4 linked regions of the Homo sapiens genome follow. The protein of the gene in region 1 interacts with the protein of each later gene in a biochemical or structural test. Each region holds a gene or a part of one and is shown in the gene's direction. Other genes may lie near its edges. The genes, in order: FGFR1, PDP1, FGF6 and KLB.

The links.
Region 2: the proteins of FGFR1 (region 1) and PDP1 form a complex in vitro, tested with the Homo sapiens proteins (one study listed by BioGRID).
Region 3: the proteins of FGFR1 (region 1) and FGF6 interact in a biophysical measurement, tested with the Homo sapiens proteins (2 studies listed by BioGRID and IntAct, with this or other methods).
Region 4: the proteins of FGFR1 (region 1) and KLB interact in a biophysical measurement, tested with the Homo sapiens proteins (one study listed by IntAct).

The regions. Positions count from the first base shown.
Region 1 is NC_000008.11:38,410,329-38,417,087, reverse strand, and holds the end of FGFR1 (fibroblast growth factor receptor 1 isoform 1 precursor), read left to right. Parts: intron 1-1,027; coding exon 1,028-1,218; intron 1,219-2,186; coding exon 2,187-2,309; intron 2,310-2,458; coding exon 2,459-2,529; intron 2,530-2,798; coding exon 2,799-2,936; intron 2,937-3,064; coding exon 3,065-3,170; intron 3,171-3,283; coding exon 3,284-3,460; 3' UTR 3,461-4,492; coding exon of another isoform or gene 4,493-4,699; 3' UTR 4,700-5,945; downstream 5,946-6,759. UniProt on the Homo sapiens protein: Tyrosine-protein kinase that acts as a cell-surface receptor for fibroblast growth factors and plays an essential role in the regulation of embryonic development, cell proliferation, differentiation and migration.
Region 2 is NC_000008.11:93,919,686-93,927,097, forward strand, and holds the end of PDP1 (pyruvate dehyrogenase phosphatase catalytic subunit 1), read left to right. Parts: intron 1-1,541; exon of another isoform or gene 1,542-1,678; intron 1,679-2,330; coding exon of another isoform or gene 2,331-2,374; coding exon 2,375-3,988; 3' UTR 3,989-6,383; downstream 6,384-7,412. UniProt on the Homo sapiens protein: Mitochondrial enzyme that catalyzes the dephosphorylation and concomitant reactivation of the alpha subunit of the E1 component of the pyruvate dehydrogenase complex (PDC), thereby stimulating the conversion of pyruvate into acetyl-CoA.
Region 3 is NC_000012.12:4,442,346-4,450,531, reverse strand, and holds the start of FGF6 (fibroblast growth factor 6 precursor), read left to right. Parts: upstream 1-4,716; 5' UTR 4,717-4,961; coding exon 4,962-5,307; intron 5,308-6,295; coding exon 6,296-6,399; intron 6,400-8,079; coding exon of another isoform or gene 8,080-8,091; exon of another isoform or gene 8,092-8,186. UniProt on the Homo sapiens protein: Plays an important role in the regulation of cell proliferation, cell differentiation, angiogenesis and myogenesis, and is required for normal muscle regeneration.
Region 4 is NC_000004.12:39,401,844-39,410,514, forward strand, and holds the start of KLB (beta-klotho), read left to right. Parts: upstream 1-5,086; 5' UTR 5,087-5,106; coding exon 5,107-5,931; intron 5,932-8,671.

The DNA.
Region 1 (6,759 bases):
AGGCAGCTGAGTAATTATGGTCTAAGAGCGCTCAGGCTGGGTGCAGTGGCTCATGCCTGTAATCCCAGCAATTTGGGAGGCCGAGGCAGGAAGATCACTTGAGATCAGGAGTTCGAGACCAGTCTGGTCAAAATGGTGAAACCCCATCTCTACTAAAAAATACAAAAGTTAGCCAGGCATGGTCACGCATGCCTATAATCCCAGCTACTCAGGAGGCTGACGCATAAGACTTGCTTGAACCCGGGAGGTGGAGGTTGCAGTGAGCCAAGATCACGCCATTGTACTCCAGCTTGGGAGATACTCCCGCTGTCTCAAAAATAAAATAAATAAATAGGCCAGGCACAGTGGCTCACGCCTGTAATCCCAGCACCTTGGGAGGGTGAGGCGGGTGGATCACTTGAGGTCAGGAGTTGGAGACCAGCCTGGCCAACAGGTGAAACCCCATCTCTACTAAAAATACAAAAAGTAGCCGGGCGTGGTGGCGCATGCCTGTAATTCCAGCTACTCGGGAGGCTGTGGCAGGAGAATCGTTTGAACACGGGAGGCGGAGGTTGCGGTTAGCCGAGATCGCGCCATTGCACTCCAGCTTGGGCAACGAGCAAAACTCCATCTCAAAAAAAAAAAAAAAAAAAAAAAAAATTAGCCAGGCATTGTTCATGCCTGTAATCCCAGCTGCTTGGGAGGCTGAGGCAGGAGAATCACTTGAATCCAGAAGGCAGAGGTTGCAGTGAGCCGAAATTGCGCCACTGCACTCCAGCCTGGGCAACAGAGTGAGACTCCATCTCAAAATAAACAGACAAACTGGGGCTCTTACCCCAATGTTGCTCGGGAATTTTCTGGACTATGCTGGGAGTAATTATTTCTCTGATTTTTTTTGGGTAGTAGAATGGATTTCCCAGGTCCCCTAAGAGGAGGCAGGAGATGGGAGGTTGGCCGGGGTGTGCTGCTGGGGGTGGGGTTTCTTTGAGGTGAAGCCAAACCTGCTCACCTGCTGCTGGCCCCATGGCCTCTTCTCCTGTGCCTGCAGGTCCCTTGTATGTCATCGTGGAGTATGCCTCCAAGGGCAACCTGCGGGAGTACCTGCAGGCCCGGAGGCCCCCAGGGCTGGAATACTGCTACAACCCCAGCCACAACCCAGAGGAGCAGCTCTCCTCCAAGGACCTGGTGTCCTGCGCCTACCAGGTGGCCCGAGGCATGGAGTATCTGGCCTCCAAGAAGGTGTGGAACCTGAAGGCTCCCCTGGGTAATGCCAGGGTGGGAACAGAGCCCCCCTAGTCTTCCAGCCTGTGACTTATCATCTTGTGGTGGCGTTGTGGATGCACTGAGCACTGGCCCTGTGTGCCCTGTGTGTTGTCTTAGGCTCTCTGGGAACTGCAGAGTCAGGAGCACCAGTGTAGCCAGGTGGCCTTGGGGTCAGACTGATGCAGGGTCCGATCTGTGCACTGCCACTTTCTGCGTAGCCTCAGGCAGCTACTTAGCATCTTAAAATTCTTCAAATACAAAATAATAATAATATCAGCTGGGTGCAGTGGCCAAGGCGGGAGGATTGCTTGAGCTCAGGAGTGTGAGACCAGGTTGGGCAATATATTGAAACCCCGTCTTTAAAAAAAAAAAAAAAATTAAAAAATTAGCTGGGTGTGGTAGTGCGTGCCGATAGTCCCAGCTACTCGGGAGGCTGAGGTGGGAGGCTAGCTTGAGCCCAAGAGTTTGAGGCTGCACTGAGCCATGATCACACCACTGCACCCCAGCCGGGGCGACAGAGCAAGGCCCTGTCTCAAAAGAAAATAAAGTATAACAATACCTGTTGTAGAATTGTTATGAAGATAAAATGAAACTGTCTGTGAGTGTTGAGTGCAGTGTTTGGTGTGTAAGGGCTGGCCTGGTTTGAGCCCAGCCCCATGTGGACTTGCTGTGCTGGGAGGCAGGACCTAGGAGCATGCATCGCTGCAGACGCAGCAGAGGCATAAGGGGCCAGTCTTTGGGGAAGGAAGGGAGGAGCGCTTGCTGTGATGAGAAGCCTGGAGCTGGCAGAGAATGTTAGAAGAGGGAAAGCAAAGGTTCGGGGGGCAGAGCAGTGTGGCAGAAGTTCTATGAGACAAGTCGGCTAGTTGCATGGGTGGCGGCCGCCCAGAGCCTTCCAGCTCCCTCACCTCCCCGCCTCCCGCTCTCCCTTCCTCCTTCCTCAGTGCATACACCGAGACCTGGCAGCCAGGAATGTCCTGGTGACAGAGGACAATGTGATGAAGATAGCAGACTTTGGCCTCGCACGGGACATTCACCACATCGACTACTATAAAAAGACAACCAACGTGAGTGCCGACAAGGCCGCCCTGTGCTGGTGGTTTCATCTGAGAAGCAAGGAGTGGGGTGGGCTGAGAACCCACCCCCCAGTCCCTTCCCACCTGTGCCCTCATGGCCCTGCCTGGGGCCACTCCAACCTCCCCTGTGCTGCTTTCAGGGCCGACTGCCTGTGAAGTGGATGGCACCCGAGGCATTATTTGACCGGATCTACACCCACCAGAGTGATGTGTGAGTTTGTAATAGCAATTGCCAGGGAGGTGTGGGATAGAGAGCTTCTAGCACTGTAGAGTCCTGCTTTCTCCCTGGACTGAGGAGTCCTCTTTCTGCCCCAGAGAGAAAAACAAAACATTGTCTGTGGCCATTCCCTCTGCTCCAGATGTTGAAAGGCTGATCTGTTCTCCATGCTGTCTCCTGGCACTGCCCTGGGTAGAGGATTTGTGCTGGGGGAGGGGAGGCGGAGAAGCTCTAACACCCTGTGGCTCTCCGCCCATTTGCAGGTGGTCTTTCGGGGTGCTCCTGTGGGAGATCTTCACTCTGGGCGGCTCCCCATACCCCGGTGTGCCTGTGGAGGAACTTTTCAAGCTGCTGAAGGAGGGTCACCGCATGGACAAGCCCAGTAACTGCACCAACGAGCTGTAAGCCCGAGGAGATGTCGGAGGCCCTGAGCCAGGCCTTGGGGCAAGAGTGGGCTTGAGGGGCAGGGGGCTAGACTAGAGAGTATCCATCTCCAGGAGACGTCCCTGACCTTACAGTCCTGCCGCAGGTACATGATGATGCGGGACTGCTGGCATGCAGTGCCCTCACAGAGACCCACCTTCAAGCAGCTGGTGGAAGACCTGGACCGCATCGTGGCCTTGACCTCCAACCAGGTAAGGCTGCCCGTGCCAGAGCCAGAGCTCAGGCCGTCCCCACTGCGTGCACGCACCTCCCTGAGCAGGGAGGAGGGGCCCGGCCCATCGCTGCTTCCTCTCGCCCATCACAGGAGTACCTGGACCTGTCCATGCCCCTGGACCAGTACTCCCCCAGCTTTCCCGACACCCGGAGCTCTACGTGCTCCTCAGGGGAGGATTCCGTCTTCTCTCATGAGCCGCTGCCCGAGGAGCCCTGCCTGCCCCGACACCCAGCCCAGCTTGCCAATGGCGGACTCAAACGCCGCTGACTGCCACCCACACGCCCTCCCCAGACTCCACCGTCAGCTGTAACCCTCACCCACAGCCCCTGCTGGGCCCACCACCTGTCCGTCCCTGTCCCCTTTCCTGCTGGCAGGAGCCGGCTGCCTACCAGGGGCCTTCCTGTGTGGCCTGCCTTCACCCCACTCAGCTCACCTCTCCCTCCACCTCCTCTCCACCTGCTGGTGAGAGGTGCAAAGAGGCAGATCTTTGCTGCCAGCCACTTCATCCCCTCCCAGATGTTGGACCAACACCCCTCCCTGCCACCAGGCACTGCCTGGAGGGCAGGGAGTGGGAGCCAATGAACAGGCATGCAAGTGAGAGCTTCCTGAGCTTTCTCCTGTCGGTTTGGTCTGTTTTGCCTTCACCCATAAGCCCCTCGCACTCTGGTGGCAGGTGCCTTGTCCTCAGGGCTACAGCAGTAGGGAGGTCAGTGCTTCGTGCCTCGATTGAAGGTGACCTCTGCCCCAGATAGGTGGTGCCAGTGGCTTATTAATTCCGATACTAGTTTGCTTTGCTGACCAAATGCCTGGTACCAGAGGATGGTGAGGCGAAGGCCAGGTTGGGGGCAGTGTTGTGGCCCTGGGGCCCAGCCCCAAACTGGGGGCTCTGTATATAGCTATGAAGAAAACACAAAGTGTATAAATCTGAGTATATATTTACATGTCTTTTTAAAAGGGTCGTTACCAGAGATTTACCCATCGGGTAAGATGCTCCTGGTGGCTGGGAGGCATCAGTTGCTATATATTAAAAACAAAAAAGAAAAAAAAGGAAAATGTTTTTAAAAAGGTCATATATTTTTTGCTACTTTTGCTGTTTTATTTTTTTAAATTATGTTCTAAACCTATTTTCAGTTTAGGTCCCTCAATAAAAATTGCTGCTGCTTCATTTATCTATGGGCTGTATGAAAAGGGTGGGAATGTCCACTGGAAAGAAGGGACACCCACGGGCCCTGGGGCTAGGTCTGTCCCGAGGGCACCGCATGCTCCCGGCGCAGGTTCCTTGTAACCTCTTCTTCCTAGGTCCTGCACCCAGACCTCACGACGCACCTCCTGCCTCTCCGCTGCTTTTGGAAAGTCAGAAAAAGAAGATGTCTGCTTCGAGGGCAGGAACCCCATCCATGCAGTAGAGGCGCTGGGCAGAGAGTCAAGGCCCAGCAGCCATCGACCATGGATGGTTTCCTCCAAGGAAACCGGTGGGGTTGGGCTGGGGAGGGGGCACCTACCTAGGAATAGCCACGGGGTAGAGCTACAGTGATTAAGAGGAAAGCAAGGGCGCGGTTGCTCACGCCTGTAATCCCAGCACTTTGGGACACCGAGGTGGGCAGATCACTTCAGGTCAGGAGTTTGAGACCAGCCTGGCCAACTTAGTGAAACCCCATCTCTACTAAAAATGCAAAAATTATCCAGGCATGGTGGCACACGCCTGTAATCCCAGCTCCACAGGAGGCTGAGGCAGAATCCCTTGAAGCTGGGAGGCGGAGGTTGCAGTGAGCCGAGATTGCGCCATTGCACTCCAGCCTGGGCAACAGAGAAAACAAAAAGGAAAACAAATGATGAAGGTCTGCAGAAACTGAAACCCAGACATGTGTCTGCCCCCTCTATGTGGGCATGGTTTTGCCAGTGCTTCTAAGTGCAGGAGAACATGTCACCTGAGGCTAGTTTTGCATTCAGGTCCCTGGCTTCGTTTCTTGTTGGTATGCCTCCCCAGATCGTCCTTCCTGTATCCATGTGACCAGACTGTATTTGTTGGGACTGTCGCAGATCTTGGCTTCTTACAGTTCTTCCTGTCCAAACTCCATCCTGTCCCTCAGGAACGGGGGGAAAATTCTCCGAATGTTTTTGGTTTTTTGGCTGCTTGGAATTTACTTCTGCCACCTGCTGGTCATCACTGTCCTCACTAAGTGGATTCTGGCTCCCCCGTACCTCATGGCTCAAACTACCACTCCTCAGTCGCTATATTAAAGCTTATATTTTGCTGGATTACTGCTAAATACAAAAGAAAGTTCAATATGTTTTCATTTCTGTAGGGAAAATGGGATTGCTGCTTTAAATTTCTGAGCTAGGGATTTTTTGGCAGCTGCAGTGTTGGCGACTATTGTAAAATTCTCTTTGTTTCTCTCTGTAAATAGCACCTGCTAACATTACAATTTGTATTTATGTTTAAAGAAGGCATCATTTGGTGAACAGAACTAGGAAATGAATTTTTAGCTCTTAAAAGCATTTGCTTTGAGACCGCACAGGAGTGTCTTTCCTTGTAAAACAGTGATGATAATTTCTGCCTTGGCCCTACCTTGAAGCAATGTTGTGTGAAGGGATGAAGAATCTAAAAGTCTTCATAAGTCCTTGGGAGAGGTGCTAGAAAAATATAAGGCACTATCATAATTACAGTGATGTCCTTGCTGTTACTACTCAAATCACCCACAAATTTCCCCAAAGACTGCGCTAGCTGTCAAATAAAAGACAGTGAAATTGACCTGAGAGAAAATGAAATGGCCGTTTTACTTAGAGGACCAAATTGGGTCTCCTGAGGAAAGGAATCCAGTTTATCTAATGAAGATGTTGTGCCATGAAGGCACTGAGTCTGTCTGGTTTCCTGAGGGTTAAAAGATTAGGGCTGGGATCACCACAGCATTAATCAATACTGCCTTTCCGTCTCTTCTAATTGCCATAGGCTGGAGATCATCGGTCCCTTGGCCCTGCTAATGTAATGTATTGATCTCAGGTAAGTAAGATTGAGCATCAAATGAGGCAAGAAATCTGTCTCATTGTTAATGAGGTTGCTGTGCTTATTCGCCACCACTGGGTGGAGCCAGCGAGCTGAAGTTTCAGTTGGCATTAGGTGAAGCACCAGTCCGCTCTCAAGTCACATTGGTCCAACTACTACCTGCTAGTGTGTGCTGGTGGTGAGTGGGAAATCTTTAGCCTAGATTTGGCATTACAGAAAAACTGGGCAGCACTGATGTGGCTCGTTTTGGGATGATTTTAGAATTAGACATGACACAGGTGCAAGGCCCTAAGTGTCAGTGGCCACCACCTCTCTATTGTAGCAGAATTGTGTGTAAGACCCAGGACACATCTAGCATCACTGTAGTTGGGTTTTTAGAGAATGCCTAAAGTGGCCAGGCATGGTGGCGCATGTCTGTAATCCCAGCACTTTGGGAGGCTGAGGCAGGCAGATCACCTGAGGTCGGGAGTTCAAGACCAGCCTGGCCAACATGGTGAAACCCCATCTCTACAAAAATACAAAAATTAGCCAGGCGTGGTGGTGCATGCCTTTAATCCCAGCT
Region 2 (7,412 bases), about 56 Mb from region 1:
AAGATTCTTAAGTTTTAAAGAAAGAGCAAATGCAGTCATAAAATTATGAAGAAAAATTCATTAAGATTACATTAGTTTACATTTTTAATGATAGAAAACCTTTATTCAAAGCACAAAATGAGTTGATATGCTTTCTGCACGCAAACCTAAAAAGAGATATGGTTTAAGTATGGAAGCCACTGTCATGTGGCCCAACATTTGAGCACATCTTCTGGCTCAGTCATGTACACTTAACCTCTGGATGACTTTCAGGTATTCAGTTTGAATTTCTTTTATTTAAATGGTTACTCCTGATGGATTCCCGTTTTTCTGGAATTTCTGTTTTTCATTAGTGCATTTCAGAATGCTTTTTTAGTTACGGATTCTTATTTCCAAAATTTTAGCCATTACTTTCTATTGCCTGATCTTGTCTTCATTTTCGTAAACAAATCCCTTCTTAGATAGTGCAGTTAAAATGATGGTACTTTCTACTACTTGCAGAAGAGAATCTGTGTGGCTGGCTTATGCAGTGCTTATTACAGAAACAAACAAGAATCAGTGATTATTCAGTGTTTAGTTTTCTTTGCTTCCCTCTACCCCAATTTATTACTTTTTCTCAAATTATTCTTCAAAAAAGGTACATGAAAATAATATATGGCTGACACATGCTATGATATTTGTTTAGCCGTGGGAAGGAATAGTTGCTATTAACTCAGATGGTTTTATTTTCTGTGTTCCTTTTTGTTTATTGCATTTGTTTATTTAAAGTATTTCCAAAGTGTTTCTTTATAGTACAAATGACTATTTTGAAGCAGTATCTCAAGAATTCAGGGAAAATATATGTTATTGAGGAAGAAGAGGGATTTTTTTTCTTGCCCAAATTATCTAGATTAATGATATATTCATTAAATTTCCCAAATAAATGCCCAGAAATTATTTTCAGCGCACATAGTGAGTGATAGGATTTTTTTTAAGTTTGTAATTATATTGCTGTACCTTTTCAATCCAAACCTTAGACTATTATTTGACTATACTGCTTCCCTGGAGCAAGTAAATACCTTTTTTTTTTTTTTTTAATGTGAGAGAAAACATTTTTGGTCTTTTAAAATTTATTTTTAATTTACAATTGACACATAATATTATATATTTATGGGGTACAATGTGATGTTTCAGTGCATGTATATATTGGTAGACATTGTGTAATGATCAAATCAGAGTGATTACCATATCCAAGAAAACATTTTTCTAGGGGTTAATTCTACTTTGGATCCATAGTAGATGAAAATACTTCTATGGGTTTTCCTTATAGCTGCTAAGCAGGGAACATTGTTAGTAGGTAAATTAAGTTCTAGGACTGAAACCATTTATGTTACTAACAAAGCTTTAGAGCTACTGCAATACTTAAACTTTTTTTTTTTTTTTAATCATGAAGGGCACGGTAGAATTCAACAGTGAATAAATGAAACCTGAATTTTATTTAAAAACCTCACTTCCATAAGCATAAAGGCATGAATCCTAGAAGAGCCTTAGATAGCATCTGCTCTGTTGATGTTCCTTTACAGGTTAGAAGAGTGAGACTCAAAGATGTGAGCTGACTTTTCCAAGATTATTTGGGAGTTGGTGGCAGACCTATGCCCGTTAGCCTGGCAAATTGCCACAGTGGACTAGAGAAGCAAGTTTTGCAAGACCATCTACTGGGGTACAGGAGAGAAATACTGGAATTTCTTTTTTTATTTAATTATGTAGAAATTTTTCTATATATGTTACAATGCATATTACTGTAGTCATATATGTATATGATGTACACGTAATTCATAAATACACATATGTTTGGCTGCCTCTTAACATTTTTGGTCATAGCCATGTGTAATCATGCCAAAAATTGACCACAGGTCTATGTAAAGGGTCTTCATAAATGGAAGAAGTCCCTGTGTAAAATGGGAGATTTCAAGGCATTTTTTAAGAATAGGGAGGGAGAAGGATGATTGGTCAGGTAGACGGCTACTGCATAATGTTATATAACCTTCATCTCCTCAGCTTTCCCCAGCCAAATCTGTTGTACATTCTGCACAGTTTGTACTGCACAAAGGACGACAAAGAAAAGAGAAAATTGAAGTTTGAGTATAGGAGCCAGGAGTTCAGTCGTGGTTCCACGAATGATTGGGAGTTGTGCCTGCCAGAATATACCCTGTAGAAATAGTACATGATGTGTGTATAAAATGTAGTACCTTCTAGCAAAGGCTTAACATGTAGATTGACTTGCTTAATATTTGTTATAAAGGCAAAGCTAGATTAAGTATCCTGAAATGTAACTCTTTCCTTTGTGTACATCTGTCTAATTTGCTGTCTAGGAATCCCAGTCAGAAGTTCCAGCCTGCCACTGTTCTCTGATGCCATGCCAGCACCAACTCAACTGTTTTTTCCTCTCATCCGTAACTGTGAACTGAGCAGGATCTATGGCACTGCATGTTACTGCCACCACAAACATCTCTGTTGTTCCTCATCGTACATTCCTCAGAGTCGACTGAGATACACACCTCATCCAGCATATGCTACCTTTTGCAGGCCAAAGGAGAACTGGTGGCAGTACACCCAAGGAAGGAGATATGCTTCCACACCACAGAAATTTTACCTCACACCTCCACAAGTCAATAGCATCCTTAAAGCTAATGAATACAGTTTCAAAGTGCCAGAATTTGACGGCAAAAATGTCAGTTCTATCCTTGGATTTGACAGCAATCAGCTGCCTGCAAATGCACCCATTGAGGACCGGAGAAGTGCAGCAACCTGCTTGCAGACCAGAGGGATGCTTTTGGGGGTTTTTGATGGCCATGCAGGTTGTGCTTGTTCCCAGGCAGTCAGTGAAAGACTCTTTTATTATATTGCTGTCTCTTTGTTACCCCATGAGACTTTGCTAGAGATTGAAAATGCAGTGGAGAGCGGCCGGGCACTGCTACCCATTCTCCAGTGGCACAAGCACCCCAATGATTACTTTAGTAAGGAGGCATCCAAATTGTACTTTAACAGCTTGAGGACTTACTGGCAAGAGCTTATAGACCTCAACACTGGTGAGTCGACTGATATTGATGTTAAGGAGGCTCTAATTAATGCCTTCAAGAGGCTTGATAATGACATCTCCTTGGAGGCGCAAGTTGGTGATCCTAATTCTTTTCTCAACTACCTGGTGCTTCGAGTGGCATTTTCTGGAGCCACTGCTTGTGTGGCCCATGTGGATGGTGTTGACCTTCATGTGGCCAATACTGGCGATAGCAGAGCCATGCTGGGTGTGCAGGAAGAGGACGGCTCATGGTCAGCAGTCACGCTGTCTAATGACCACAATGCTCAAAATGAAAGAGAACTAGAACGGCTGAAATTGGAACATCCAAAGAGTGAGGCCAAGAGTGTCGTGAAACAGGATCGGCTGCTTGGCTTGCTGATGCCATTTAGGGCATTTGGAGATGTAAAGTTCAAATGGAGCATTGACCTTCAAAAGAGAGTGATAGAATCTGGCCCAGACCAGTTGAATGACAATGAATATACCAAGTTTATTCCTCCTAATTATCACACACCTCCTTATCTCACTGCTGAGCCAGAGGTAACTTACCACCGATTAAGGCCACAGGATAAGTTTCTGGTGTTGGCTACTGATGGGTTGTGGGAGACTATGCATAGGCAGGATGTGGTTAGGATTGTGGGTGAGTACCTAACTGGCATGCATCACCAACAGCCAATAGCTGTTGGTGGCTACAAGGTGACTCTGGGACAGATGCATGGCCTTTTAACAGAAAGGAGAACCAAAATGTCCTCGGTATTTGAGGATCAGAACGCAGCAACCCATCTCATTCGCCACGCTGTGGGCAACAACGAGTTTGGGACTGTTGATCATGAGCGCCTCTCTAAAATGCTTAGTCTTCCTGAAGAGCTTGCTCGAATGTACAGAGATGACATTACAATCATTGTAGTTCAGTTCAATTCTCATGTTGTAGGGGCGTATCAAAACCAAGAATAGTGAGTGGCTCTTTCACTGGCAATTCTCAAATGATATACATTTAAAGGGCAGATTTTTTAAAAAGATACTACTATAATAAACATTTCCAGTTGGTCATTCTAAGCATTTACCCTTTTGATACTCTAGCTAGTCAGGTACTCCAAATTGACTTTGCAGCAGGGTGGCAGGGTCAGGAGAGTCTGGTCCTGCCTAGCTCAGATTTCATGGCACCTGCACTTGAAGCAAGTCACTTCTTTATCACAGGTGTCTTGAAACATTAGCTTCTTTTACCAACCTGAGAAAATTAGGATGACCTGGCAAATAAGATCTTGAATAGGCCAAAAGCAAGTATCTTGCTGTGTGTAGTCTCTTGGTTAAAGTGAAGAAACAGTACTGTTCACACCTTTCTTCACTGAGATTCCAGTGTACATGAGAACATATATTTATTGCATGATTTTCTAGATACACAGTCTATGCATTATTCATATACATTTATTTTAGCCTAAAGTGGTTTTCAAATCCAGTTCTTCAAGCCATAAATGACCAAGATCCAAGCAATCTGAATTTGTTTTTGTGATTATTTGACTGGAATGCTTCTTAAGTGGAATAACTATACTCCGTTATCCACCCGATTTCCTAATGTAATTGAAAGATTTTCTATTTTGCCACACACTTGGAGACAATAAGGGTTTTTAGTTTTATCTACTCTTCTATTGAAGTTAAAGAAAGAAAAAAAGATTTTTTTATTTGTATTAATGAAAAGCTTTAGTTTAAAATAAGGAGATCCAGAATAAAAAGAAGAGACTGATCTCTTCAATTATTGTCATCTGTAGCCACCAGCACATCACTCTTATGTAATCCCCAAAGGCTTGGCATGCCGTAAGTGTGTGGTGGGTAGACTGCTGCCGGGGAATCGTACTTCTTATTTAGTAATGATAAGACTTTTCATTATTTTTGGAATTTTAAAGATGACATAAATAAGTTTAAATATCAATTTGGGGAGTAAGGTTTAATATTGCCATCGGGTATTGAGACAGGAGGAAGTTTCTGTTTTTCTCCATTTAGACATAGGTCAATTAAAATATTTGGGTTTAAAATGACTAAATGCTTTAAACATATTGTAGCTTAAGATATATGTGTTAAGATATATACATGAGAAACTTTAAAAGGTAACTACTGTGCATGCCTGATGCTTAATAGAATACTTAGTGGCATCAAATGTTTGCAGCAGTCTCCATAATTATATTCAGTCCCTTCTAATACTGTATCAATGTAAATGAAATAAATATATTCAAATTGGCTTTTTGATATGCATCAAGTGGCATTTTGTTCCTGTGTTTAATAGTGATCTGTATACAGCTGTGCACATATTGTCATCACTTATTCTAGCATCACTGTTAAGGCTGTGATTATGTTTGATATTCACCTGGATTTTAATACAAGCCAATATCAGCTTCCCATTGTGTAATAACTTGGGTGTTTAGGAGTCTTTTCACATTTTTTGGGGATATGAACTAGATGTTCAAGAACTCCTTCTGGACTGTGGATACTGAATCAGTGTACTATTGGCTGCAGAATTTGTTTCAATTGAAAATAGACTCAGGAAGATTGCTGCTCAGAATATCATATAATGTTTATTTTTTGAGGTGTTTTTGTTTTTATTTGTGTGTTTTTTTTTTTTTAAGTCAGCTTGGAACTTTTTTCCTGGGTAGTATTTGGGAGAGGGAAAGGCTGTACTATATATTTATTTCTAAATGTTTTGACTGGGCATTTTTCTTTTAATGAAATATGTGGACTGCTCTAGCAAACCCTATTTTCAGCTACTATTTGAATATTCTTGAACACCACCACTGAAGAGTTTCATATACACCAAATAATGTCTCATCTCTATAGTACAGGGAATATAAAATTGGTTTCCTGTGGTCATGATCAAGATAGTAGTATTATTACACAAGAAACTTGGTCTGCAGTCTGGAAGCTTGTCTGCTCTATAGAAATGAAAATGCAGCATGAAGTTGACATTGTGGAAATGAAAGTAATTGGGTATTAGAAATCTGAAAGTACTGTCATCTAAAAGCAATTGTGATTTTATTGTAATTGGTTGTCACTGTTGTACGGTGTCTAGAATTAAAGAATACATGTAAACTTTCATGGTATTTAGCCTTTCTTAAATTTTTTTAAAATTTAAACTTTCTAACCTATGTATTCAACTTCTGTATTTATATTTAATCAGTGGTTCATGTTATATAATACACCCTTAACTAGTTAAATGGAATGTTGGTATGGTACAGAGTACCATATTGCTAAGAAAACTGTCTTATAAAAGATGTATATGTGTGAAGACATGAAAGTTTAATGTACAGAATGGTTGGAGAAATGCCTATGGTGAATTAAAGCTTCATATCTGCTTTCTGAATGTCCTGTGTTGGTTTTTAATAACAAGATTGATTAGATGCTTCCTATGTGTGGTAGATTATATTTAATTTTAGGACCCAGTAGATACATAGTACTTCAAATTTGTAAAAATTGAGGTAAAATTTTTTTTCTTTTTTTTTTGAGATGGAGTCTCGCTCTGTCACCCAGGCTGGAGTGCAGTGGTGCGATCTCATCTTACTGCAGCCTCTGCCTCCTGGGTTCAAGCAGTTCTTCTGCCTCAGCCTCCCAAGTAGCTGGGACTACAGGTGCGGGCCACCACACCTGGCTAATTTTTGTATTTTTAGTAGAGATGGGGTTTCACCATGTTGGCCAGGCTGGTCTTCAACTCCTGACCTTGTGATCCACCCGCCTCGGCCTCCCAAAGTGTTTGGATTACAGGTGTGAGCCACCATGCCTGGCCAAAATTGAGGTATAATTTAAACAAAATGCACAGATTTAAAATTTGCGATGTAACATTTGGTAACACCCCAACAAAGATATAAAACTTTTTCTTCAGAAAATTCCCTATGCCCCTTTCCATTAATCCCTCCCCTCATAAGTATCATTCCACTTCTCTCACCATAATTTTGCTTCTAGAAATTTATATAAATCATACATGTACTTTTTTTTTTTTTCAGACAGTCTTGCTCTGTCGCCCTGGCTGGAGTGCATGATCTCGGCTCACTGCAGCCTCCGCATCCTGGGTTTGAGCAATCATCCTGCCTCAGCCTCCCAAGTAGATGGGACTACAAGCATGTGCCACCACACATGGCTAACTTTTGTATTTTTGGTGGAGACGGGATTTCACCATGTTAGCCAGACTGGTCTCAAACTCCTGACCTCAAGTGATCTGCCCACATCAGCCTCCCAAAGTACTGGGATCACAGGCGTAAGCCACTGCACCTGGCCCACATATGTACTTTTTATGTTTTACTTTTGCTCAATTTTTGGAGATTCACTTATGTTGTTGATTGTATTCATAGTCTGTTCCTTATTACTGGGTAGCATTCCAGTGTTTGAATGTATCACA
Region 3 (8,186 bases), on another chromosome or scaffold:
CGCAAGAAGATGACTGCTAGTGTGGAGAGGAGAATCTTTCTCCCAGAAAACTCTGCAAATACTTGGTGACCAACCAGACCACAAAGCTGCGTGTTCAGGGGCTCCTTCCCTCCCCATTGTAGGGGTCTCTGGGAGTGGGGCAGGGTCTCCAGTCTGAACTCAAGCCAGGATTCAGACACATATAGACAATGCAGATAGGCCGGCCCCAGCAGAAGTGTATTTGTCTGAGGGGTTGAGGGGCCTCCAGAAAAATAATCCACATGGAAGGAAATGGGAATCCCACCTGATCAGCTTAACCCATAACAAGACTGAGTCCTTTGCAGGGCAAGGAGTCTGAAAAGAACTTCAAATCAGCAGATTGCCAGGGCATGAGTAGTACTGGCCAGGTATTTCCTTAATAGGTATAACATGAAGACGGGGACTAAGGTATTCTTCCTGGCTTTGAAACAGAACATAAAGCAGTTCTGGCTCCTTGAGGGCTTCAGGTGCTGAGCTATAGTGAGAAAGGGAACACCCCCGGGCTGCCCAGCAGGAGGTGGAAAGGCTGGAGAACAGGGAGATCCACGCAGGTGCCTGGCAATGTGCCCAGGCAGAAGCAGTCACATGCTCGTGAACATATGTGAGACATGCTCTGAAACTGCAGAAATATCTTGGGGGTGGTTTGTAGTGGGGTGAAGTTCCACATGAGTTGGAAGAAGCAAGAACTAGGGAAATGTGGATTATAACTGTTAATGGCTCCCACTGTGTAAGTGGGTGAGGCCTGGGAAAAGTTGAGTTCTACTAGGAAAGTACAAAGTTTAGGTTTCCCCAGGGAATAGCTAGCAAGATAATGGCTGCCTTGTCTTTGCGGAAGTCCAACCTGGACACTGTTGATCAGTTGAAACTGTTTCTCTTGAATTCTCCCTCATGTAGCAAGTTTATGAGCTGCAAATGTCCCTCTTTGCTCAGGCCTAGGGCAGGAATCCTTCCTCGATCCTCATCTCTACACATGTCCATCTCATGCCGATTAAATCCTGTGAGCAATCTCTACCACTAAAAAAACCAGGGATAGGTGCAGAGCTGCCTGTCTGAGCAAGATGGGGAGGAGATACAGGGAGGCTTCAAGGCCGCTGTGCCAAGCTCACACAAAGACAGACTTTGAGACAAAAGAGACAAAGACACTAAGCACAAACAGCTATTTTGTTTTCCACCTTATCATTTTCCACATTTTCCAAATTATCTATAGAAAAAGGCAAATGCTAGTTTTTCAAAACCAAATGTAAAAAGTACAAGTAAGCACAGCTTTTCACAATCTACGTGGATGAGGCTCATCTGAGTTTTATGTGCTTTCCCTTTTGGTCACCCATCAGGCATTTGATCCTGATTATGTAACACACAGCAGTCACAGAGAGCAACCACCTGATGTGACGGAGGGAGTTCTGCCATGCAGATGATGCGGAAGGTTGGTGTGGCTAAGCATTGCCAAATCTGACAAATCTGTATTTTGTGGTATCCCCCTTGGGGACAAGGACCCTGTTGTGGGAGGAGATAGACATTAACGTATTTTCCCACTCACCTCCACTGGATCTTGGCTCATCCAGCGAGAGTGATTGACAATCCCCAAAGGCTGTTGGCCAACTATTTGCAAGAGGGGTCCATGGAGAGAGGCCTCTTCCACCTGTTACTCTTTTCTCTATCACTTCACATCCATAGGGGTCCCTAAGCCCCAAGAGAAGGGTCAAGTGCAAATCTGGTAAGCCAAGAAGACCTAGCAGTTGTCAACCTAATTAGCCTTCAGGAAAAATATATGGCTATATGAGCACAGTAAAGTTGCTATAGAGACAGGCAGGGGAGGTACATTCAGAACAGGGCCTCATCGCATCACCCGATAAAAATAAGACCCAGGCTTTTTAATAGCATGAATTACTTAAGTTTTAAATTTAACAGGGGACGACACCAAGGCTCTCACTGGTTTTCAGAACATTTGAGGAATCTGGGCTGCCTGCTTCTGCATATGTTAGCAGCCATCACAACATATGCTGTGGCGGATGGCAATGAAGAACTGGAAGCCCACGTGTCTCTCCCACACCGTGAGATGAGAGATGGTCTTTCTCACTTTGGGTTTGTCCTCTTTAATTGGGTGAGAGATTTTCAATGTGTTTCAGGGAAATTTCTGGGAAATAGCTATACTGCGCTCTGCACTGGCCAGTTGTATGTATTATTGCTAGTCACTGTAACAACCTTAGGAAGTAATGATATCATTTTGCAGATGACAAAATAAGCTCAGAGAGGTCCAGAACTTTCCTAAGGTCACACAGCTACTAAATGGTGGAGTTGAGATTCAAATCCAGGTGTCCCCATTCCAAAGCCCATTGCTTTATGAGACATCAACCAGAACCTCTGCACAGAGAGGAATCCAGGAAGAGATGAATCTAAGGAGCGTTACCATTTTTATTGGTATATGACATGGACCTTGTTATAGTTTAATCTCTCTCCTAAGGCAGTCCCAAAGTGGATGGGTTCCAAGAAATTCCACAGAGATTCTGAGCTCTGCTGGTGAGCACCTCTCCGATTATCCAAGGCAAGTGTTAACTTCAGACTGACTTCTCCTTACCATCCAACATGTTTCTGGACTGTCTCTTCCCTAAGTGAGGACCACCAGCATAATTAACACAAGATTCCAAACAACATCACTGAGAAAGTGTCCCCACTGCTCTTGCATCCATGAAAGCTTAACTATATGAAACCCAGCTGGAAATCCAAAGTGAAGTTCTTTTTGTTGACAACTTTGTCTTCGGATTATTCATGAACCTTTTACTTTGCAGAAGGATTTTTAAAAACAGTTTTCCAACAAAGGCCTACATAGTAGACTCAATCTGAGCCTATAAGGCATCATCTTTCCTCATGGGAAATGGCAGTGCTGGTGATGATGAGATTGGGTATGGGACAACGGCAGTGGAAGGGAGAGGAAGCCAATGGGGAAGTCAGGGGGCCGTGGTGACAGTAGGAACAAGTGGTGCCTATGTCCCTCCCCATTCAGTTTACCAGCTGAGGGTAAAGACAGACATCTGGGCTTCACAGGATTTCAGAAGGCATGTCTAGGGCAACACTAAACACATGGCTTGACAGAAATTTGAACCAAAGCATCGAACCCAGTGAACGAGGCAGAAGGGCAGAGAGAAGGCAGGTAGAAGCCACAGACCAGAGGCTGGGACCCAGGGCACAGCAGAAGGTTTAGAATCAGAGGGAAGGCGGTGGTGCCTCAGTAGAGTCCTTGGGCCATGGAACTCACCCCAGGAGCTTTTCCAGGCTGCCTGCAGCCTGCAATGTGGGTGTAGAGTGTGGCTAAGGGAGCTGCCTGCTGGGACCAGCTCTACTGCTCAGGACACTCAAATCCATCTGTATGCCACTGTCATCACCCCACACATACTCTCTCCAATCCCGGCAAAATCAGTGCTAATGTCTCACCAACAGATTAAGGCCTGGATTGAAGTACAAGAAACAGGATTTTTAACTCAAGTTAATTCAATTCCCCAGCGACCCTTGTTAACTTATTCACCCTCAGAGACGTATTAATAGTTCTGTCTTATATTGTATAGAAATTTGTGCAGTGAGTTTTCTGGTAGCTTTACATTTTTTTTCTCACTTCAGTTAGACATGTAATCTATTTAAAAGTAATATGGGAATAAGATAAATCAGTGTAGGAATAACTTCCTGGCAGAAATATTTTTACTAGTTTCTGAGTGTAATATCAGCCCAGCAAAAGTTATCTGCAAATATAGAAGTTCTCATGTACATCAAAGACACTCAAGTTTTTTTTAAGAAATAAATCATTTTATGCTACTGAAATAACTCTGTGATGTGCTATTGGCATTTAAGGAGCTAAACAGACTCTATGGGCCAGCCAACTTCTACTGCAAGCATTAGACATGCACAGGCTTTAGACTCAGGCACACCTTAGAAGTTCTGGCTTTGCTACTTATTAGCTATGGTAACTCGGGCAGGTCATTTATCCTCTCTAAGCCTCAACTTCCTCATCTGTGAAATGGGAATAATATCAGTCACATGCCAGGGATAAATCCAGGGAGAATGGCCAGGGGGCTGTGTCAAAGGCCAGACACAACTTCCACCCCAGGTGAATGTCGGGACCAGGACAGTGAGCAGGCAAACCTTGCCCTTGCCCTCCTTCCCTCCACAATCTTAAAGCTCCTTGAACAACCCCCATCCCCACCCCCTGAGAATGTCTGTGCCCTCCTGCTGAAAGGGTTTGGCCTTTCAGTGTTCCCCTCCACCATGAGCTGTTTCCATGAAAAGATCTCAAGGGTGACTTGAGGCTACGGTCATCACTACCACAAGCCTTTTCCCATCCCTGCCTCTACCTATTGCCCTCTAAATAAGGAAGCCAGCGCTGCCAGGCAAAGAACTTCTGCCCAATATGGGTCCTGGGTGGCCTCTCGCCTCTCTCTTTCCCTGGGCCCCCAGCCAGCTCCCCCCTCCCCCAGAGATGCTCCCTGCTCACTTCATTCCTGCCTCATAGTTGGAATGACAGTGGCTCCCAGAACCCCTGGGGAGTGTGGAGGGTGATGGGGGTCTGGGGAGGCAGCCAGGCCCAAGAGCAGGTTAATGTTACAGCCCTGGATAAGTGAGCTGGGCGGGTTGACGTCAGGGCGATGATGGGTGGAGGGGAGGGCCGGGCTGCTGAAGCAACTATAAAGATAGGTCAAATCAAATATCATCAACTAGGGACGGAGCAAGCGGGCGAGCTAGAGAGCGTCCCCGAGCCATGGTCTCTACCGGCCGCGGCTCAGCCTGGGTCCCTCTGCTCTCAACCCGAGTGCCCGATGGAGGCTTTGGTTTCATGTCAGCAGCCTTCATCTGCCTTCCAAAAATAAGCCCCTGCCGCCATGCCGGAGGGAGAAAAACAAGAAGGGCGGTATTTTTAGGGCCATTAATTCTGACCACGTGCCTGAGAGGCAAGGTGGATGGCCCTGGGACAGAAACTGTTCATCACTATGTCCCGGGGAGCAGGACGTCTGCAGGGCACGCTGTGGGCTCTCGTCTTCCTAGGCATCCTAGTGGGCATGGTGGTGCCCTCGCCTGCAGGCACCCGTGCCAACAACACGCTGCTGGACTCGAGGGGCTGGGGCACCCTGCTGTCCAGGTCTCGCGCCGGGCTAGCTGGAGAGATTGCCGGGGTGAACTGGGAAAGTGGCTATTTGGTGGGGATCAAGCGGCAGCGGAGGCTCTACTGCAACGTGGGCATCGGCTTTCACCTCCAGGTGCTCCCCGACGGCCGGATCAGCGGGACCCACGAGGAGAACCCCTACAGTGAGTGCCAGCTGCAGCCAGTCGGGACGCTTGGGGGTTTGGGCTCATGCAGGGCTAAAAGGTGAAGGGGCCCTGCTCTAGCGGACAGGATGCACGATAAAGGGGGCAGAAATGCTGCTCACCACTTAGATGATTCCACGTGACCCTGCCTGGGTGCAAGCTCAATATACTGCGGTCCAAGCATCCTGGTGTTCTTTGCCATCGCCTTGGTTAGATCCTCAGTGGCACTAACTATTTCAGCATTACTGGCCCATCTGATGCCTTGTAAGACCATTAGGAACCATTAGTCTGGGAAGCCCCCAAGGCCTGGGTAGGGAGAATCAGTTAGTATACTTGGATCAAATTTGACACAAGCTCATTTTTATTCAGCTTCTTTCTTGGAGAAGGAAGGGAAATTCAATTGCAAAATGTCCAACTGAAGCACATCCTTCTTTTTATTTCAGCGGCTCCCTCTGTCCCCAGGTTCTTATCCTGCAAGCTGCCTGCAAGCTGCCAGCTTGCTGTATGGTTAGTCTCCTATCCAAGAAAGGATGGGGGCTGCAGGATCCAAGAAAGCCATCAGCTATGGTGTGGCTGCTGTGTTTTCAAGATTAAGTGGGTTGAGATTTGTTGAAACATGTAGAGTACACATTAAGAAGAAGAAGAAGAATCAGAATTTATTTTTTTACTCAAGTCAAGGACCTCAAGTAATTATGTCACTGAAAGCCCAGATTCAAAGCTCATCTTAAACAGATAGCTAAGTGGTCACTGCAGCCCCTAACTCTGCTATCAGAACCTTCCCTTGCAGAACTGGATTTCTAACAGCACAATGGCAGCACTCGATGAGTCCAGCAGCCAGGGTCTCCTAGAGTTAGAGGGATCATGGATGGGGCAATGGAGAGTCTGGCTTTCTAGGAGAAGGGGGATGGACTGAGATGCCCTTGTCGGCTCAAGTTCCCACTCTGATTTGCACAAGCCTTAGGTAATGTGGCCCCCCTTTCCTTGTCAGGCCTGCTGGAAATTTCCACTGTGGAGCGAGGCGTGGTGAGTCTCTTTGGAGTGAGAAGTGCCCTCTTCGTTGCCATGAACAGTAAAGGAAGATTGTACGCAACGGTGAGTTCACCAGGCCGGGGAAGTGCCAGGTTTACAAGGCTTGATGCTTACACAGTTGAAGAAAATAATATGAAGTCCTGAGTAGAGAAGTGACTATCTAAATGGGAAAGGAAAGGCTGTGAGAGGAGCCTGTGAAAGGGAGGGGCCTTGCAGCTTGTGCTTCTTCAGCCTCACGGGTGATTGTCCTCTGCCCTGGCCCGTGCTTCTTCTGTTCCCACCTGCCGGCCGGAGCCCGTGTGCTTAAACGGAAACCACAGCTCAGGGAGCCCGTGGGCCAGAGGGAAACCCACATTCTGGCATCCAGGCTTGTGAGCAGGTGTGATTCCCTGCACTGGCGAGGCCCCGAGAGCAAGTCTGTCTCTCTGCCTGGGTGCGCTGCTCCATGACACGCGCCCTGCAAGATGCCCCAGCCTCGTGCGCAGCAGGAGGAGTGGAATGGGAGGCTATTTTCATCCTCATCAGTGTGCTGAGATTCTGCACTAGGGTTTTCAATCCTCTGGTCTCCGATCACGTACGCTAGAGAAGCAGCCTACCCGTTATACACTTTAGGCTGGTACCAGTCCCACCCATTCCCATCCCCACCCCCATAGGTCACCTCTGGGAGTGCCAATGCTGGCACTTGGGTTAATGCAACCAGCTTCTAAGCACATTGACGAAAACCTCTGCTCTCACTGACCTACTCTTTCCTGCAGCCCTCGGCCCATCATTTGGCTTATTCCAAAATATGGCGGGGCAAACATCCCGATGAGGCTGAAGAAATGGAGAGTTCCTTTGACAGAAATAAGCAAGCTAAAAAGGAAGACCTCAGAGCAGGCCTCAAAAAATATCAAAGTTATTTATGGGGAGGGTGTGGAGAGCTGATCTACTGCCCCTTGGAGGATAAACTGAGGACTGGGATGTGAAGAAATAGATCCAGGACTGGCACTGGGTCCCAGGGGAGCTGTCCCAACAGAGGAGGTCTATGAAATACAAGAACGGGTTCACCAGGTGGCCTCCACCCCATAATCTTTAGTGCTAACATCTCTCAGTCTGGGTTGGTTTATGTGGACATACGGCATGCACTACAATCAGTGGGTCTCCCACACGGGTCTGTGGACAGTTTGCATCTCTGTCACCTTGGAAACTTATTAAAAGTATGGATTTCCAGGTACCTACCTAGGAGATTCTTATTCAGCAGAGCTGGCGTGTGGGCCTGGAAATCCATTTGTTTTTGTATTTTAAATTTGCCAGGTGTTTCTGAGGAACAGGCAGGCTTGGGGGTCAGCAGGCTACATGGCCTCTGGAGGGCAGGGGACCACCCACTCCCCATGTTACACTGAACCTGAAAGCTGGAGGGCGAGTGAGATGAGACAGAAGAGACATATCCTTGTTACCGCTCTCTGGGAAAGTGATGGCGAGGACAGGAAGAGGCCTGGGACCAACCCAGGTTTTGATGGAGCAGGTTTCCCCTCTGTAGGGTGGGGCATCCCAAAGAACCCCTTCTTCCCAGCCTGCATAATGCCCGGAAGCCCATAGGGTCGGGAGAGCCGGGAATTTAGGCTGTTGGCTGTGGGACTCCATGCAAGCAAGGGACGTTTTAGCAAGTAAATCTCCTGGGAGAAAGCACAAATTTCATAAACTCTTCTTTCTCCTTGTCGCCTTTATCAACAAACCATTTATTACTTTTTTCTTCCTACCCAGAAAGGAATTTAATTGTGGGGAGGAGAAAATGCACAAATATAGAGGAAATTTACCCACTTCCCACTTTCAATCTCTTGGCCCTGGAAGGAGAAGCTGGGAAAGGCTCG
Region 4 (8,671 bases), on another chromosome or scaffold:
ACTGTGATGGTATGCGTTTAAATAATCCCAGCTACTTGAGAGGCTGAGGCAGGAGAATTGGTTGAACCCAGGAGCCAGAGGTTGAAGTGAGCTGAGATCACGTCACTGCATTCCAGCCTGGGCGACAGAGCAACACTCTATCTTTAAAAAAAAAAAAAAAAAAAAAAAAAAAATATATATATATATATATATATATACATACACACACATATATACTTTTCATGAGTATTGTGCAAACTTACATTGCAATCAACAATCTAATCAACACTGGTTTTCATCACTTATCATTTTTATTTTTGCTAATTTTATAAGATAAAATATTGACCAGGCACGGTGGCTCATGCCTGTAATCCCAGCACTTTGGGAGGCCAAGGCAGGCAGATCACCTGAGGTCAGGAGTTCGAGACCAGCCTGGCCAACATGGTGAAACCCTGTCTCTACTAAAAATACAAAACTTAGCCGGGAGTGGTGGCAGACACCTGTAATCCCAGCTACTCGGGAGGCTGAGGCAGGAGAATCACTTGAACCTGGGAGGTAGAGGTTGCAGTGAGCCTAGATCGTGCCACTGCACTCCAGCCTGGGTGACAGATCAAGACTCCATCTCAAAAAAAAAAAAAAAAAAGATTAAATATTATATACCTCTTTTTATGTATGTTTCTAATTACTCATGGTTTAATTTTTTATTAGCCACATTTTTCACTAGTTGCATTTCCTCTTTTGTGTATTTTTAAATTCATGTTGTTTGGCCATTTATCTGTTAGAGATTTAGTGGCTTTCTTGTTGATTTGCATGAATTACTTATGGCCATTTGCCTTACTTTGGCCATTTGCCTTCTAGATTTGCTTTGACATTTTCCAAGTTTGTTATTTGCCTTTAAATTTTATTTTTTATATTTTAATTATAAATTATTTATATATCATCATATGTAAATAGAATAATATATATAATCTACACATTTACATAATTTAATATTTACTTCTGTTTTCTTTAATTTTCTGTGGCTATATTTTTTAAATTGTGGTAAAATCAAGTAATATGAAATGTACCATCTTAACCATTTCTGTGGTTATACATTTTTGAATTAAATATATTTGTGAGGATCTAAGATATTGCATTTAAAATTTTATTTTCATAAATAGTAATGTACCAACTCCATTCATTCAATAGATAATTATTAATCATTTACTCTGATAAGCAATTATAAACATTTAGATAGGAGATATTCTTACAGTGTGGTGGAGGAGACAAACAACTCCAGGATTATGTGATAAATGCAGTGATAGAGGTATACATAGTCTACTATAGCTACTTTTTTTTTCTTAGTAGAGATGAATTCTCACTATGTTGCCCAGGCTAGTCTTGAACACCTGAACTCAAGCGATCCTCCTGCCTCAGCCTCCCAAAGTGCAGGGATTACAGGTGTGGGCCCTCATGCCCAGCCTACTATAGATACTCTCATTCATTCAGTAAATACTTTAGTGACTGCTATATGTCAAGTACCATGCTGGGCCACAGACAATCAACAGGGAACCAATCATGGTCCCTGTTTTGGTTTTTAAAAAAGAGAGAGAGAGAGAGAAACAGAGAGAGAGAGAGAAAACTTACACTCAAACAGAGGATACAGATACATTTATTGTGTGGTTAGCTGATTTATTGTGTGTCATAATAGAGAAAACATGGGCTGCCATGGGAAAACAGAAGATCCATCTAAATCCAATCAGGCTAGGGAGTCATAGGGAGTCAGAAAGGCCTTACTAATGCAGGAACAGAAGACCAAATACCGCAGGTTCTCACTTATAAGTGGGAGCTAAATGATGAGAACACCTGGACACATAGAGGGAAATAACACACTGGGGCCTATCAGAGGGTGGAGGGTCGGAAGAAGGAGAGGATCAGGAAAAAAAAACTAATGAGTACTAGGCTTAATACCTGCCTGCTGAAATAATCCATACAGCAAACACCCATAACACAAGTTTACGTATGTAACAAACTTGCACGTGTCCCTGAACTTAAAAGTTAAAAAAAAAAAAAAAAAAAAAAAGACGGCCGGGCGCTGTGGCTCACGCCTGTAATCCCAGCACTTTGGGAGGCCGAGACGGTCGGATCACGAGGTTAGGAGATCGAGACCATCCTGGCTAACACGGTGAAACCCCGTCTCTACTAAAAATACAAAAAACTAGCCAGGCGTGGTGGCGGGCGCCGGTAGTCCCAGCTACTCAGGAGGCTGAGGCAGGAGAATGGAGTGAACCTGGGAGGCGGAGCTTGCAGTGAGCCGAGATCCCGCCACTGCACTCCAGCCTGGCAGACAGAGTGAGACTCCGTCTCAAAAAAAAAAAAAAAAAAAGATAGACATGAGCTAGATGAAGGGAGAAACATACTCTGTGCAGAGAGCACACATACCAAGGTACAGGGCTACAAGTTAGCAGGCTGTGTACCCCTTAGTCAACTGAGAGAAGTGAAGCTAAAAATGTGGGCAGGAGCCAGAACAAATTGTCTTTTATGCTAAATCCTGGCATCATGTCCTGAATAATCTTTCCCTTTCACACAAAAATAATATTAGCACATAACTTACTATGTGTCAGTCTCTGTTCCAAGTGCCTTACATGTACTGGCTCATTCGTTTCTATATTCCAGAGAAAACCATTTGGTTCAGTGTATTAACTCGTTTAATTCTCACAATAATCCATGAAGTGCATATTATTATTATGCCTTTTCTTAAAGAGGAAACTGAGGGCAAGTTACACAGCTATATTTAAACTCAGGCAGTCTGCCTCTAGAGGCTCAATCTCTCTTTTTTTTTTTTTTTTTTTTTTTTTTTTTTTTTTTTTTTTAGACAGAGTTTTGCTCTTGTTGCCTAGGCTGGAGTGCAATGGCGCGATCTCGGCTCACTGCAACCTCCACCTCCCGGGATCAGGCAATTCTTCTGCCTCAGCCTCCCGAGTAACTGGGATTACAGGCATGTGCCACCATGCCCAGCTAATTTTGTATTTTTAGTAGAGATGGGGTTTCACCATGTTGGTCAGGCTGGTCTCGAACTCCTGATCTCAGGTGATCCAGCCGCCTCGGACTCCCAAAGTGCTGGGATTACAGGTGCGAACCACTGTGCCGGGCCTCAATCATCTTTTTTTAGAGGTGAGGATAGTCTCACTATATTGCCCAGGCTGGTCTCAAAACTCCTGGCCTCAAGCAGTCCTCCCCACTTAGCCTCCTAAGTAGCTGGGATTATAGGTGTGAGCCACCTCATCTGGCACAGAGACCAAACTATTAACCACTCTGCTTCTCATTCATATGTGATACTTCAAATATTTAAAACATTTATTTATTTATTTATTTATTATTTTTTGAGACAGAGTCTCATTCTGTCACCCAGGCTGGAGTGCAGTGGTGCAATCATGGCTCACTACAGTCTTGACCTCTTGGGCTCAAAGCAATCCTCCCACCTTGGCCTTCTAAAGTGCTGGGACTACAGGCATGCACAACCACACCCGGTTAGTTTTTAATTTTTTTTGTAGAGATGGGGCCTTATTATGTTCCCCAGGCTGTAAAACATTAAATTTTTTACAGGTTATTTGGAGGCTATCGATTTGGTACAATATTTCTTTCTGTATGTGCATGTATTTCTTTCTGTATGTTTATCTTTATTCCAGAATCATGCTGAAGGTAGTCTATGCCTTTGCTATTTTCTTTTTCAGGTTTTTCTTTCCTTTTTAAAAATAAATATTGCCTATTCTTCAAGGGAACTTTCATAATAATTTTCTCTTTTTTTTTTTTTTTTTATTTTGAGACCGAGTCTTGCTCTGTTGCCCAGGCTGGAGTGCGGTGGTGCGATCTCAGCTCACTACAACCTCCACGTCCCAGGTTCAAGAGATTCTCCTGCCTCAGCCTCCCAGGTAGCTGGGATTACAGGTGCCCACCACCGTGCCCAGCTAATTGTATTTTTAATAGAGACGGGGTTTCAACATGTTGGCTAGGCTGGTCTCAAACTCCTGACCCCAAGTGATCTGCCTGCCTTGGCCTCCCAAAGTGGTGGGATTATAGCCATGAATCACTGTGCCTGGCCTTTCGTAATAATTTTCTTGAACTAAAATTTGGGATTAGGCCAGGCATGGTGGCTCACACCTATAATCCCAAGCACTTTAGGAGGCCGAGGCAGAAGGGCTGTTTGAGCCCAGGAGTTCAGGACCAGCCTGGGGGACATAGCTAGACCCCACCTCTACCAAAAAATCAAAAATCAGCTGGGCATGGTGGCATGTGCCTGTTGTCCCAGCTACTTGGAGGCTGAGGAGGGAGGATTGCTTAAGCCTGGGAAGTTGAGGCTGCGGTGAGCTGTGATGACACCACTGCACTCCAGCCTAGGCTACAAAGCAAGACTCTTATTAAAAATTAATTAATTAATTAAAAAATTAGAGATTAGAGAATTTTAGTTAAGTTAAATAAATAAAATAAAAAATAAAATTAGAGATTAGAGGATTTTAGTTAAGTTAAATGTATTAAATTGAAAAGTATTTCATTTTTCCATCCACAAAGTGCTATATTTTCTCATTCAAGTCTTCTCTCAAATCTACCAATACATTTTTGCAATTTTCCTAAAATAGGTAACATTTATTAAGATTGTTCTTAGATGCGTTATAATTTTGTGGAGAAGTGTAATTTCTTATTGTGTTTTCTAATTCTTTACTATTGGTATGTAGGAATGCTATATACTTGTATATGTTATTTTTCTTGATATATGAGATTATAAAATTACCACACAAAAACTCTAAAAATAGAAAAGCTATATACCTTATTCAATAATGTTCAAAACATTCAGAAAAGATTTGGGTCAATATGAAAGGCTACACGGAAAATAATGTGATTTTAATCCAGTGTTTACATATGTGTTAGTTACACATTCAAACTCTTGTCACCGATGCATTTTCATCTAATTTTTTCCATAATGAGAGAGAAGGAGACGCGTTGGTGACTGCAATAGGGCCACCTCCCTCAAATTACGTTGCTCTCTATGACCCATCCTCAGTCTCCCAGTTCAAGCTAATCATTGACAGAGCTTTACAATCACAAGCTTTTACTGAAGCTTTGATAAGACAGTCCAGCAGTTGGTGGCAAATGAAGCCAGGCTGTGCGGCAGGATCTCCAGGGAATGAATGGATTTTCTTCAGCACTGATGAAATAACCACACGCTATAGGAATACAATGTCCAACGGGGGATTGCAAAGATCTGTCATCCTGTCAGCACTTATTCTGCTACGAGCTGTTACTGGATTCTCTGGAGATGGAAGAGCTATATGGTCTAAAAATCCTAATTTTACTCCGGTAAATGAAAGTCAGCTGTTTCTCTATGACACTTTCCCTAAAAACTTTTTCTGGGGTATTGGGACTGGAGCATTGCAAGTGGAAGGGAGTTGGAAGAAGGATGGAAAAGGACCTTCTATATGGGATCATTTCATCCACACACACCTTAAAAATGTCAGCAGCACGAATGGTTCCAGTGACAGTTATATTTTTCTGGAAAAAGACTTATCAGCCCTGGATTTTATAGGAGTTTCTTTTTATCAATTTTCAATTTCCTGGCCAAGGCTTTTCCCCGATGGAATAGTAACAGTTGCCAACGCAAAAGGTCTGCAGTACTACAGTACTCTTCTGGACGCTCTAGTGCTTAGAAACATTGAACCTATAGTTACTTTATACCACTGGGATTTGCCTTTGGCACTACAAGAAAAATATGGGGGGTGGAAAAATGATACCATAATAGATATCTTCAATGACTATGCCACATACTGTTTCCAGATGTTTGGGGACCGTGTCAAATATTGGATTACAATTCACAACCCATATCTAGTGGCTTGGCATGGGTATGGGACAGGTATGCATGCCCCTGGAGAGAAGGGAAATTTAGCAGCTGTCTACACTGTGGGACACAACTTGATCAAGGTACTGTACAGCTAGCTTCTTCTTATAGCTTCAGAAAACACTAAGAATTTAAGAATTTACCTTCTGCCTCAGTAATTCTCTTCACTGAAATCAAGGCAACTGATTTTAAGCTAATTCAAAAGATCTATCCTCAAATTTTGCATTTAAGTTAGTGTATGTTTTATTTATCTAAGGTATTTTTAATGTATTAATCCAATTAGTTTTTTCAAAAGTTGCACTTTGAGGCTATTTTTAAATCTACCATTATACACTACAGTGTGAATATATGAGCTTACTTTCATTCTGTGGGAAAACAGTGCTTCATAAATTTAATTGTTGGAACCCTTTTCTGACAACATGCAATCATTTCAGAATTATCTTAAGGCACAACCATTTCAAATATGTATTTGTTGTTAAGTATAGCTAACTTAGCTAATAAGTAAATAAAGTAAGTAAATAAGTAAGCCAAATAAATGTTAGCTAACTCATGCATATTAAATACAGAAATTTAAATATACTTCACTTTTGATTTTATTTGTGTTACATAGCAAAAAAGAGAAGATTAATTGTTATGGGAGCTAAACACATTTCTTCCCATAAGAACTGGGAAGAATGTGCTCTACTAAAGCAATTTTCAAGCAATATATTTCAAAAGCTAGAGATAATGTTGAGAAATGTTAAAATTAGTAAAACAATAGTGAAAATACAAGCAAAATAATAGGTAATAATTACTGAGTACTTATTATGTACCACAGACTACATTAAGTATTTTACATGCATCGTTACAGTTGATCCTCTTAACAGCCTTTTGAACTAGTTTTATTATTCTTCCCATTTAAAAGATGAGGAAACTGAAGCTTAATGAGATTAAATAATTTTCCCAAGGTTAAGGAGTAAAATACAGCTGTTGTGGACATGGATTTTTTAAATGACAACATAATTAACACTAACTGTCTTCATTAAGAATGCTTTGAAAAGAAGACTCAGGAATTTGCAAGAGATTTAGCCTCACATTGAGGCTAATATCTAGAATCGAATTTAACTTTTTGAGTCAAATAGTTTACTTAGGAAAAATAAATTATTCTGCACACCTGTTACATTTTAAAAATGAAAAAACTTTATCAATATAATTTTATAATGTGCTACAAAAAGTAATTTAATTATTAATAATCAAAAGCTAAATATACAGAAGTAGAAAAAAAATACAGCAACATAAAATAATTCCATGTCTAAATTTGTACATACAAAAATATCTGCTATCACTTCTTTTCTTTTTGAACTTTTCTGGATTATTACACATGTGCATTGTACTATGGTTTCAGATACATCTGCCCTTGAGGTAAACAGATTGCATTATGATTTCAAGGTCATTTGCATATCTTTGACTAGAGTTGTATATAGAACATATTAATGTGTGGGTATACTGTGATTTGACAAAATAAGACCTTAAAGGGTAGAAATTGTATAGGTATTTAACAGTTATCAAGATTATGCATACAAAAGTTAGAAAAATATTCCTCTCATTTAGTCCTTTTAATTTTCTTTTTTTTTTTTTTTGAGACAAAGTCTCACTCTGTCACCCAGGCTGGAGTGCAATGGCGCAGTCTTGGCTCACTGCAATCTCCACCTCCCAGGTTCAAGCAATTCTCCTGCCTCAGCCTCTTGAGTAACTGGTACTACAGGCACATGCCACCAGCCCAGTTAATTTTTGTGTTTTTAGTAGAGAGGGGTTTCACTATGTTGGCCAGGCTGGTCTCCAACTCCTGACCTCATGATCCACCTGCCTCAGCCTCCCAAAGTGCTGGGATTACAGGTGTGAGCCACTGCGCTCAGCCAGTCCTTTTAATTTTTAAAACAATTCATGCTCATGTACATTTAAAAATATCAGATTGGGCCGGGCACAGTGCCTCATGCCTGTAATCCCAGCACTTTGGGAGGCCAAGGCAGGTGGATCACAAGATCAGGAGTTTGAGACCAGCCTCGCCAACATAGTGAAACCCTCTCTACTGAAAACACAAAAATTAACTGGGCGTCGTGGCACGTGCCTATAGTCCCAGTTACTCGGGAGGCTGAGGCAGGAGAATCCCTTGAACCCGGGAGGCAGAGGTTACAGTGAGCCGAGATCACGCCACTGCACTCCAGCCTGGGCGAGAGTGAAACTCTGTCTCAAAAAAATAATAAATAAAAAATAAAAATATCACATTGTACCAAAGGATCTAAAGTGAAAAAGTTAAATCCCTCTCCCTCTCTTCACCTGACAATCCCAGGCCAAGGACGCTACTGTTAATAGTTTCTTATACATTCTTTTTAAAGTTTTCTATGCAAATACATGCATGAATATGTTTATTTAACCTTTGTATAAAGAAAAATATTCTAAATTGTTGAAAAGTCATTACCTGGAAAAATGTCAACAATTAGAGTTTTCATGAAAATGTATTTTAAGGATTAAAGCCTTAAAATTGGCTGATAAGAATAAACAGGCAAAAAGCTTTAACAGATATTGCTTCCAAACATAGTTGATAAAATGACATATTTTCAGATGTTTTCATTTTCCTCTAATTTGAGATATTCTCTGCCTTTAACACAAAATTAGCACTTTATGATCGTGAGATAAATTTTATTATTTTAAATGGAGGGATATGTTTTTCAACTATTGTGTTTTCCAAATAATGTTTGTATTGCCTTAAAAGTTCTAAATCACTAGACTAAATAAATGGTGTGAGGGGTCCTTGAAATCAGTCAGAAAGTGAAATACACTGCA